Homo sapiens: one gene and its partners. The protein of the gene in region 2 purifies or fractionates together with the protein of the main gene of each other region. This does not show direct contact. Each region holds a gene or a part of one and is shown on either strand. Other genes may lie near its edges.

The links.
Region 1: the proteins of CUL9 (region 2) and ZNF845 purify together in Homo sapiens (affinity purification with mass spectrometry; one large-scale study listed by BioGRID and IntAct). This does not show direct contact.
Region 3: the proteins of CUL9 (region 2) and FAM83B purify together in Homo sapiens (affinity purification with mass spectrometry; one large-scale study listed by BioGRID and IntAct). This does not show direct contact.

What each region holds. Positions count from the first base shown.
Region 1 is NC_000019.10:53,332,174-53,335,924, reverse strand, and holds the start of ZNF845 (zinc finger protein 845), read right to left. Parts: upstream 2,177-3,751; 5' UTR 2,133-2,176; intron 1-2,132. UniProt on the Homo sapiens protein: May be involved in transcriptional regulation.
Region 2 is NC_000006.12:43,180,670-43,184,420, forward strand, and holds the start of CUL9 (cullin-9), read left to right. Parts: upstream 1-1,526; 5' UTR 1,527-1,580; exon of another isoform or gene 1,581-2,419; intron 2,420-3,632; 5' UTR 3,633-3,641; coding exon 3,642-3,751. UniProt on the Homo sapiens protein: Core component of a Cul9-RING ubiquitin-protein ligase complex composed of CUL9 and RBX1. The CUL9-RBX1 complex mediates ubiquitination and subsequent degradation of BIRC5 and is required to maintain microtubule dynamics and genome integrity.
Region 3 is NC_000006.12:54,867,263-54,870,913, reverse strand, and holds part of FAM83B (protein FAM83B), read right to left. Parts: exon of another isoform or gene 2,198-3,651; intron 728-2,197; 5' UTR 668-727; coding exon 224-667; intron 1-223. UniProt on the Homo sapiens protein: Probable proto-oncogene that functions in the epidermal growth factor receptor/EGFR signaling pathway. Activates both the EGFR itself and downstream RAS/MAPK and PI3K/AKT/TOR signaling cascades.

The DNA of each region.
Region 1 (3,751 bases), on a different chromosome or scaffold from region 2:
ATGTCCCTTTTAAAAAGTACTATGGGCCAGGCGTGGTGGCTCATGCCTGTAATCCCAGCATTTGGGGGGCCAAGGCGGGTGGATCATCTGAGGTTGGGAGTTTGAGACCAGCCTGACCAACATGGAGAAACCCCGTCTCTACTAAAAACACAAAATTAGCTGGATGCAGTGGCTCATGCCTGTAATCCCAGCTACTTGGGAGGCTGAGGCAGTAGAATCAGTCTGAACCTGGGAAGCGGAAATTGCAGCGAGCCGAGATTGTGCCATTGCACTCCATCCTGGACAAGAGTGAGATTCCATCTCAAAAAAACAAAAACAAAAACAAAAACAAAAAACAAAAAACGACTATGTAGGCCAGGCACGGTGGCTCCTCTCTGTAATTCCACCTGTAATCCCAGTAATTTGGGAGGCCAAGGCAGGACGATCCTTTGAGGCCAGAATTGAGACCAGCCTGGGAAACAGTGAAACCCCATTTCTACAAAAAAAAAATACAAAACCTAGCCGGACTTGGTGGCTCACGCCTGTGGTCCCAGCTACTCAGGAGGCTGAGGTAAGAGGATCGCTTGAGCCTAGGAGGTCGAGGCTGCAGTTAGAGGAGATCACACCACTGCACCCCAGCCTGGGCGACAGAGCCAGACCCTGTCTCAAACTATAAATTAATTAATTAAATTAAAATTATTACATAATAACAGAAAGTGATTTTTTTCTCCCACTTCACTGCCCCATTTCCTACCTCACCATGGGAAGAGGGAAGAGAGGCTCTCACAATTGAATTAAGTCACTACCCTCTGGCTGAATAGGGATTCCAAGTGGAAGCTGACCTCTAATGCCAAGATTTACAGAATGTATGTGTCTTATAGATAGGAATTTTAAAATTCTCAATATCATCTGTATAATTTAAACAAGTTCTAAGTTATTAGATTATATAAACAGAAGTCAACATATCACAACTAATCATATCCAATGAACTCACCCACTCATCTGAACCCAAAGTCCCCCACCCCTTTTAATCTTTTGAGACAGGCTCTGCTCTGTTGACCAGGCTGGAGTGCAGTGGCATGATCTCTGCTCACTGCAGCCTGGACCTCCTGGGCTCAAGTGATCCTCCTGCCTCAGCCTCCAGAGCAGCTGGGATTACAGGTGTGCACCATCACGCCCAGTTAAATTTTTTTTTTTTTTGACAGAGATGGGGGGGGGGGTCTCACTATTTTGCCCAGGCCGGTCTTGAACTCCTGGACTCAAGCAATCCCTCTGCCCCAGTCTCCTAAAGTGCTAGGATTACAGGCGTGAGCCACTGCGCCCAGCCCCCCTTTCTTCATTACTGTGCTTCCCTCCCTAATTCTGTACATATCTCTCATTCTCCCCTTCTCTCTCTAGCTCTTGTTTTCTTTTTCCCTGGGATCTGCTCCTCCTGCTGTTTTTTGTTTTGTTTTGTTTTTTTCATTTTTGCTCTCTCTTGGCAAATCCCTCACTCATCCTCTACTTTGCCATCTGTTATGGTCTTTCTCATTCTTCTTTTCTCTGTCTCAGGTTTTCTACTGCTCTCTCTCTCAGTCTCCTGATCCCTTTGGCCAACACAATCACAGGAGGGCTTTGGAGTAAGACGCCTGCATCCCGGAGGAGCGCATTTTCCAGGGGCTGGTGCAGGGCAGGCAAGAACACCCGGTGTCATAGGACAGCCCCGGGCACCTCCCCAACGCGGGCTCAGGGTAAGCGGTGACTGCGGTGGGGAGACCTGGGGAGCATAAGGGCCTGGAACGAGGAGGGAGGTGGGGGGCGACGGCGCCTTAAGACAAGACTGGGAGGCGCCAAGGGCGGGAATCCGCCTCGCGGTAAGGACTTTAAAAAGTGCGGGTCGGGAGGAGTCAGAAAAAGGTTTTGAGCAGGGAAACTACGCGATGGGAAGTGTATACATTGCCCTATAGCAGAAAGATTCGGGAAGGGACCATCCTCAGGGCGACTTTAAACCCAAAAGGAAGCGACCCCTGGACTCTGACGAGGACGTCTAAATTTGCTCTAGGTGAAGGAACACGGGTGAGAATTTCCAGGTCTATGGGGACCCCACGTCCCAGGTACAGAAGCGCCGGGGACTTGGGAAGCGCAGACTTAACACAACACAGAGCAAAACTCACCGCTGCGGTGGGACCATCACTCCATGCGATCCGCTTCCGGGTTTGCGCGAATCTGCGCGCGCAGGACAGAAGCCAGGCCTGGGCGGGACCCGCGGGGAGGTAGGCGGGGCCTGAGCGAGGTAGGGGCGGGGCGCGAAGCGGAGAGACCTTCCCCTTTAGAATTGGCAGAAGGCGGGGCCGGGGTGGGACCCGTGCGTCTCTCAACCTCGCTCCCAGCGCCTCTTGTTTTCGAGCTTTGGAGGCGAGACCGGACAGGAAGGCTGAGGCATGATTCAAAAGCCCTGGAATTGTCTGAAACGGGGATGCAAACTAGAATGTGAAATGCAAAGCCCTGCCTGGGTGGAACATACGATTTCATGCTGACGGCCCACAGAACAGAATAGAAATCCTCTCCCTTTCTATTCTCCATTCACTGGGAAAGGAGAGTCCACCCTGTCCTCAGCTTCAGAGATTTCCCTAGGGCCTCCCCCTGGGATGCGGGACGGAGTGCTCAGGCCAGGGAGGAGTGAGGTCACCACCTACTGCTTAAACACAGCAGAGATGCGGGCGCGGGGCGAAAGCCTGAGGTCCCAGCTACTCAGGAAGCAGTGGCAGGAGGATCGCTGAGCCGGGGGGGGGGTCCAAGTTAGCCTGGGCGACAAAGTAACACCTCCTCCGGCAGCGCTCCCTTCCTCGTCTCTCTCTCTCTCCTTTTTTAAAATTTCTTTAAATAAAATTTTTGATTTTGTGAGTTAGGGATCCAACATTATTCATTTTCACGTGGATATCCAGTTAGTTGTCCCAGCACATTTGTGGAAGAGATCTATTACTTTCATTTTTATATTTAGATTTTTCTTTTCTTTTCTTTTCTTTTTTGAGACAGAGTATTTCTCTGTCACCCAGGCTGGAGTGCAGTGGCGAGATCTCGGCTCACTGCAACCTTCACCTCCCGGGTTAAAGTAGTTCTCTTGCCTCAGCCTGCCAACTAGCTGGGATTACAGACGCGCGCCACCAAGCCTGGCTAATAGTTTTGTATTTTTAGTAGAGACTGGGTTTCACAACGTTGGCCAGGCTGGATTCGAACTCCTGACGTCAAGTGATCCACCTGCTTCGGACTCCCAAAGTGTTGGGATTACAGGCGTTAGCCACCGCGTCTGGCCAGGAAAACTCTTAGAAGTTGCGCCTGCATACCACTGGACTCAGCTTGCATGACCACATTCCTTTCAAGGCTCAGAATTATTTAAAGATCCATACATTTACATTGGAATTATTTGATGTTTGAAATATTTAATTTCCTACCGAGATACGGGTACTGTCTCCCTTGTTCTTTGCCTTTCAAAGAGAGACCCCAAGTCCTTCAGAAATACATCCATGGGGGTTATTAAGCTGAAAAAAGGATTACGTGGTTTCTAAAAAATACCACTTCAGGCCAGCGCGGTGGCTCACGCCTGTAATCCCACCACTTTGGAAGGCCGAGGCGGGCGGATCACTGGAGGTCAGGAGTTCAACCCCAGCCTGCTATCTTAAAAGAATACGCTGTCATGGGATATTGGGTCATCTGGACATTGTGTTTCTGTAGGAGTTTGTCCTTGCAGGTATCAATAAGCTGCTTTCCTTAACCGTAAACATCTTATAACCGT
Region 2 (3,751 bases):
TTTACCCTGTGTCAGAGCCTACCTTCACCACCTATATCCAGAAGGGGAGCTTTTTCAGAAACAGGGCAGCAGTGGGGTGAAATTTTCTTAACCCCTAAGACTGCCTTCAGTAGGAACAAGCTGGCTTCTGTGATTAGGTGAAGGGATGGGGGAAGATTTTATGCACAGCCTAGTTATCAAGGGGATGATTTGCCGACATGTTTGAGAACCCCCTAACCTCTAACCCTCATTGCTGTCTTGCCCCAGTTTGGGGTGCCAAGATGGAAGTCACCTTTCTGGGCTTTCTCCTGGAGATAGCTGGGGCTTATGGGTGGCTTTCAAGGCTGGGGCATGGCAAATCAGGGGCCAGAGAGCAGGGGAGCTTGGGACTCAGGTCTGTAACTGCCCAGCCCCTTTTCTCTGCTCTTGTTTCACTCCACCATCACTCACTCACTCCCCACTCCCCCACCCATGGGGAGGAGACCTTTGATGAATTCTTCCTCTCCTTCCCACAAAAGACAGACCCAGTGAGTGAATCAGGCAAAGTGCTTATAATGTGTGTTGTGTGAGCGTGGCCTTGGGAGGACATGCGTGTGTCAGGGATGAGTTGAGGTGATATTTTTATGTGCAGCGACCCTTGGTGTTTCCCTTCCTCGGTGGCTCTGGGGTATGTGTGTGTGGGTGTGTGCGCCTGAGTGAGTGTGTGTGCTTGAATGTGAGTGTGTATGTCAGTGGTTTCTACTTCCCCTGGGATGCTGACCCAGGAATAGTGGACATGGTCACAGTCCTATGTACAGAGCTTTCTTTTGTATTAAAAAAAAATACTCTTTCAATAAATGTATCATTTTTGTGCACAGACTGTGGGGTCTTTGGTTCTGTTTTTCTACTTAGGGAGGGATGGGGGTATGAACGCGAGGCAAACTCCTAAAATTGCTGCTCTGAGTAGCGATCCGGGCTGCTTGATGAGAACGGTAATGCTAAGGTGTGCTTTGGGCTGTTTAATTCTATACGATTTAATTTAAGGAAAGTTTTGCGGGGCCGAGGACCTTCTCCCTGTGCGTGGCTTCGCTAGGTGTTAAGGCCAACGCAGAGGAGCAAATTTTAATTAACAGGAAAAGTGACACAACTAATCCAAAGCATTGCTGAAGGGTTTGGGAAACTCATGGGCACCTGACCTACTGAAAAGTCAAAAAGGGCAGCCTTAAGGTGGGAATGTGGGTTACCATGTTTCGTCAGCATGATCGCTGTGATGGGAGAGGGAGGATTAGGAGGGCCGACCCAGTGAAGAGGAGGGGGCTTCACAGTTGACTGGATGGAAACGGCTTCTTCCTGCTGCTGAGAGAGGAGCAACGTGACCTCGATCCCAGGCTCCTCCGGTAGCGCGCCCCCACGCCCCTCTTCCAGTGCAGCCGCCCGCGGTAGCACGCATGCTCCACTCGCGCGCTGTTCCGCCACGCTCGGCGTGGGCCGCGGTGGGACCCGTAGGTGCCCGGCCGTGCGTGCACTCGCCGTGTGACCCGGAAGGGAGCTCTGAGGAGGCGGGGCCAGGACGGCGGGACCGGCCGCTGGGTCCCAGCGAGGGCTGAGCCGGGCGGTGGGAGGTGAGAGGAGAGTTCTGCGCCGACCCAATCCCTCCCCTTCTCCTGTCCCCTCCCCGGTCCTTTAGCCACTGTCCATGGGGCTGACGAAGGGAACCAGGTCTTGCTCTCTGAGATTCACTGGATCTTTTCAGCTTTTTTGGACCGCGCCCCCAACCATCCTTCCCCCTCCCCCCAAACCCGTTCCCTCTGCGGTGCTGGCCTCCTCCACCTCCCCACGGCTCTGCAAGCTTGGGCTTGACCTTGCTATCTGCTGGTCTCATCCATGCGTCCAGAGCTCACCCCCACACCTCAGTTTATTGTTGCTCTTCTAGGCCGACGTTACACCTCCTACCTCCTCCTATCCGATTCTTTTACTTCCCCCTGCTGCTAATCAGTTGCCCGCTGGCACATCGCTGGCTACCATCCAGGCTTGCCCCCCATCCTAAGTGGACCCCTACCTCCATTGAGGTCCACATCCATCTTTCTCCCTCCTCTTCACCTCTACTCTCATCTTCTGTCCCTGTACCCCAACATGACCCCTGCCCTGACCACTATATCTTCATCTGGGTTTACCTTCTTCCATTCTTATTCTCACTATTCCCTGTTGCCCCTGCACTGCTTCATATCACGCATATCTTTCCTGATTATTCCACTCCCATTTATAATCGGTCTTAATAACTTTGCATTTATTTGATGACTCCCCTACCTTCTCCATCTAAGAATAATAACAGATTATGTTTACTGAACACTCTTTATGTGCTAGATGCTGTTCCAAGTGCTTTACATACATGATCCTACTAAATTCATGAAGTAACTATGAATATTACTACCATCTTGCAGAAGAGGAAACAAGCTCAGAGGTTAAGTAACTTGTTCCAAACTATGCAGACAGTGAGACAGAAAGCCAGAATTCAGAGTCACATTTATCTGATACTGAAGTCTCTGAATATTGCTTCTCTCCTGACCTCATTTCCTACCTTTAACCCCATGATTACCACCTCTATCTTATCTACTTAACTTACTTAAATCCTTACCATACATGCAGTATAAGGGCAGGGTGGGACCTGGTCATCTTTCCCATAATTTTATCTGGTCCCTAGGGCCCTCCCCCTTTCACAAGACTCGAATATACTTTTCCTATCCAGTCATTTGCCCCAACATCCCAGCCTTTTGTCATCTCCATTCTCTATATCTGCCATGGCCCACCCTTTACATCCACCTTGCAGCTTTACTCTGTCATTTATGCTCCCTGTCCTGCCCCTCCGCTATCCTACTTTTCCTCACATGTTCTGATCCCACTGCCTCACATGCTGCTGTCCTTCCTGTCCACCCATGTCATTCTTCTAAGTCCTAATCTGTAACCCTCAGCCACCCTGCTATCCTGCCTAAACTGTCTTGCTTAACTGTCACTCTGTTTATTGTTACTTTGCCTATTACTGTTTTAATTCTCTTTTTGTAAACTCCCCTTCCTTCCTTTCTTCCTTCCTTCCTTCCTTCCTTCCTTCCTTCCTCTCTCTCTCTTTCTTTCTTTTTTTCTTTTTTTTGACAGAATCTCACTCTGTTGCCCAGGCTGGAGTACAGTGGCGCGGTCTTGGCTCACTGCAACCTCCGCCTCCTGGGTTCAAGTGATTCTCCTGCCTCAGCCTCCTGAGTAGCTGGGACTACGGGCATGTGCCACCACACCTGGCTAATTTTTGTATTTTTAGTAGAGACGGGGTTTCACTATGTTGACCAGGCTGGACTTGAATTCCTGACCTCGTGATCTGCCCACCTTGGCCTCCTAAAGTGCTGGGATTACAGGCGTGAGCCACTGGGCGCAGCCAACTCTTCCATTTCTTAAACCCCTTCTTCATCCCCTCTCTGTCTTCACTCCATTCTCCTTCTGTTATAAATCCCAAAGTATGTTCAGCTATTTATTCCATCCTATTTTTTGCCTTTTCTGTTTGGCCTCCTAAATTCTACCATGCAGCCTACCGATCACCACCCACCTTCTCTGTGTCTCAAGATTCCACCCCCTCCATGTATTTTTTTTCTTTTCTCATACTGCCTTATCTTTCTCCTTGTGTATCCCAGGAGGTCAGGATGGTGGGGGAACGGCATGCTGGGGACCTCATGGTGCCCTTAGGGCCTCGGCTGCAGGCATATCCTGAAGAACTCATTCGACAGAGGCCTGGGCATGACGGGCATCCTGA
Region 3 (3,651 bases), about 12 Mb from region 2:
AGGAAATCTCTTTTCTTTAGCAGAGACCTAATGCCACTCTCTTGGATATATGCAAGATATAGGAAATACAACCTTCCTGTGTATCCATAGGTACTTTCCTAAAAACAATAGGCATGGCCTATACATATAGAGATTCTTTTATTAACATACATATTTGTGTTATTACTCTCTCTACTTTTCTACATGTTTCAAATTTTTCATTTCAAAATAGAAATGTTATTACCTTTCTTGCTTCTTTTATCATCTTCCGAATAGTTTCTTTTATCGTAAGTAGATGTGCTCTTGGTGGATGAAAAAGGAGATCTATATGGGTGCCCCCTAAGAGTCCGGGCATCACATATGGCCAGCCTAAGTCAAGATTTGGAGCTTCCACATCAGACTCAACAGGCCAGTAGGTCCCTGAAGATAAGGTATCATCACAGGAATCATCAGTACCATGTGCTGTGCTTTGTGCAACTTTCTGGACATTTTTCAAAATATAATTAATTTCTTCCTCAGCAAGAAAGTCTGAAACTCGTTCCTGGACAAGAAATTCTTGGTATGCTTCTAACCCGTGTTCAATCAGAATATCAATGGCTACTCGATACCATTCCTTGTAGTGAGGCTCAATGTAGTTGTCAGATTTACACTCATCATTCAATGAGGAAAGCATTGATGAGGTCTCCATGCTTGCAAGTGTTTGGCTATGGCACTTTCAAATGTCCATTCATGCAGTGGTGAGAAGTATCTGGTATTTGAAAAGAAGAAAATCAAGATCAAGTTAAAATTCGGTAACAGAATGTTTTATGATACATATCAACTATTATTTTTTCATTTACACATTTCCATTACCAGAAGCTCAAAATGACACATATTTCATATCCAAAATGACATTAATAGCACCACAATTCACACATCTATCACAAATAAGCTACACAGATTTCCCTTACAGATTGCTGTTGGATTTTCCTTTTCCAAGGTATCTCAATTTAAATTAAAAGAGAATTAGAAAACAATCAATGCCTACCCAGCCATTAATGTCTCTACTGAGTACCTGTCAGGCATACAGAATATGCTAGATGTAATGTTAAGAGCACAAAACACTGGTCTTTCAGGAATTTATTAATTAGTTGAGGAGGCAAATTGTACGCAAAAAACATTACTTACCACTTTGAAGAAAGCCATACATTGCTAAAGGCCAAAATGAGTAATGCCTATATTCAGTGCTTTAAGAATAAAAGCAAGTAGAGATCAATATGGAGCAAATGAGTTATGAACAGCCCTGAGCAAGAGGTGGGCTTCGGCTGGACCCGGAGCAATGAGTAAGAATCTGATCAGGTGGCAAGAAGAAATATTTCCATCCCATACAAGGATAAAAACATGAGCAAAATCACGGAAGAGATATGAGAGTTTGGTACATTCACTAATTATGAAGGAAGAAAAAAATTAAAGAAAAAAAAACCTGGCATGCTGGAAAACAGGTTCCTTTTAACAGGAGTAAGAGATAAAATTGAATAGACAAGATAAAGCCAAGAATGGACGGACACAAAGTTTTGTGATTCAACAAAACTTCTGTTTGAAACAATTCTGGCAGTAGCAGGGGACTGAAGAAGAGACAGGTAGCTAGGAGAGTGTTTCAGTGTTCAAAAACGCAGTGAGGAAGTGGACAGAGTATTCCAGAGATGGTTTAAGGAAGGAGCCTTGAGATTCAGTGACTGGACAGAGTATACGAGATGAAATTTAAGACATGAAAGATAATTCAGAAATTTCTCTTAGGAGTCAAAATCTGCCTATGCAGGCTCACATTCCATCTCTCACAATGCCCACAGAATGCTCTCCATTCAATCATTCAGTCACTACTCCACACTGTGTGAGATACTGGAATGGGCTCTCTCAATCAGATGATGGACTTTCCAGTCTTTTGAAGTCATGATCTCCATTGTGTGGATTCAAGGTACAGATTTATGATGTGCTATAAGCATTAAAAAGATAACTTGGAGCATGGAACACAAAGGGTGCCTCCATTTACCATCTTAGTGGAGACAATCCTGTTCCTATCTCTGGGCTCAGAAGTTTTACAAAGAAAGTCTAACAGTACAGAAAGCCCAAAGATTAAATATGATACAGGAATAAAAATAGAACATGTTCTTTTCTGTCTTTTGGAAAGCCCTCAGCTTGAGTCATAATTTGATCCAAGCCCAGACAACTAGAACTATACCTGGATCCTAGGCTCCACAGTGCAGCATCTGAACTTTGGGGATGGCAGCATCTGAATTCTGGTGATGGCAGTCTTCCTGCCCTATAGTATAATGGTGAAGTTTTGCAAAAATATTCTCTTCTCCAAGAGAAAAAGGAAGAACACCCATCTTGTCTGCTAGTATAAAAGCTATCGCATGGGGAAATAAAATTTCTTTTGTTACTTAATTAAAATTAATCTATTGACATGTATTGGGATACATCCTAAAACTTTCATAAATTTCTCAATCATTCTAGGATATGTCATCTTTTTCCCAATCACATTTCATTCAAGTTCAGTGGTTCTCAAAAGGGAAGATTTGTCCCTCATCTGACAACATCTGGAGACATTTTTAAATAGAATCACTTGTGCGGAGGAGGGCTACTAGCATCTAATGATTAGAGACCCAGGATGCTGCTAAACATACTACAATGCATGAGACAGCCATCCATATTTAGAAATAATCCCACCCAAAATGTCAACAGTGCCAAGGTTGACAAATCTTCATAAAGTTGCTCACTTCATATTCATGATATCATGCCACTAATTAATAACTTTCAACACTCATTGAAGTTCTCTTTTGCACATAATGCTCATTGTTAGCAAAAAAAATTAAAAAATAAGATTTGCATTCACTTAAAAGACTCAATCCTTATGCTTACAGTTTCCTAAGGTTTATTGAAGTACAGTTTTCACTTGAAAATTCCAGCCAATGAAGGAACAAGTATCTGGTGATTACATGATAAATTACATCTGTAATTTGTAATTGTTAAGTCATAGGTAACTACTAGTTGTTCATAATCCAAGTTTCCTGCAAACCTATTCATTTAATTTTTAAAATGTAACTTTTGAATTCCTATATATGTGATGTTAAACACCTGTTACCTATTTGGAAGTTAAAATGCATAAAGTACTTTTAAAATACTACCTATTTCTGAGCTACACCTATGCAAATAAATATTTTGGAACTGTAAAAAATTCATTCTGGAACTATGTAAACTCTGAAATCACAGACCTCGAAAGGACCATGAAAACCAAACCATGAAAACATAGATAAATTAATCTGAAGAAAAAAATTGGAAATAAGAAGTGAAACTTATTTATAATTAATTACCATTACAGGACTAATCGATAGCCAGATACCACACAGAAAAATATATTATACAAAACATACAACAGAATGAACAATGAGGTTACAATATTATGTACAAGACTTAAGATTACTACTAAATATACTTTATATTGTTCTGGTGGAGAGGCTATGTTCCAGCCACGGTTTAGAGATATTTATCATAAGAGCTATTTGCATGGAATACTTGTGAAGGAACCATCTATAAATGAATTTTATCAGAGAACTACAGGGTAATGGCACTTGCATAGTGAGTATTGCAATTAAATATCACCTGTATTTAATTATAGACTTAATAAAGCACTCT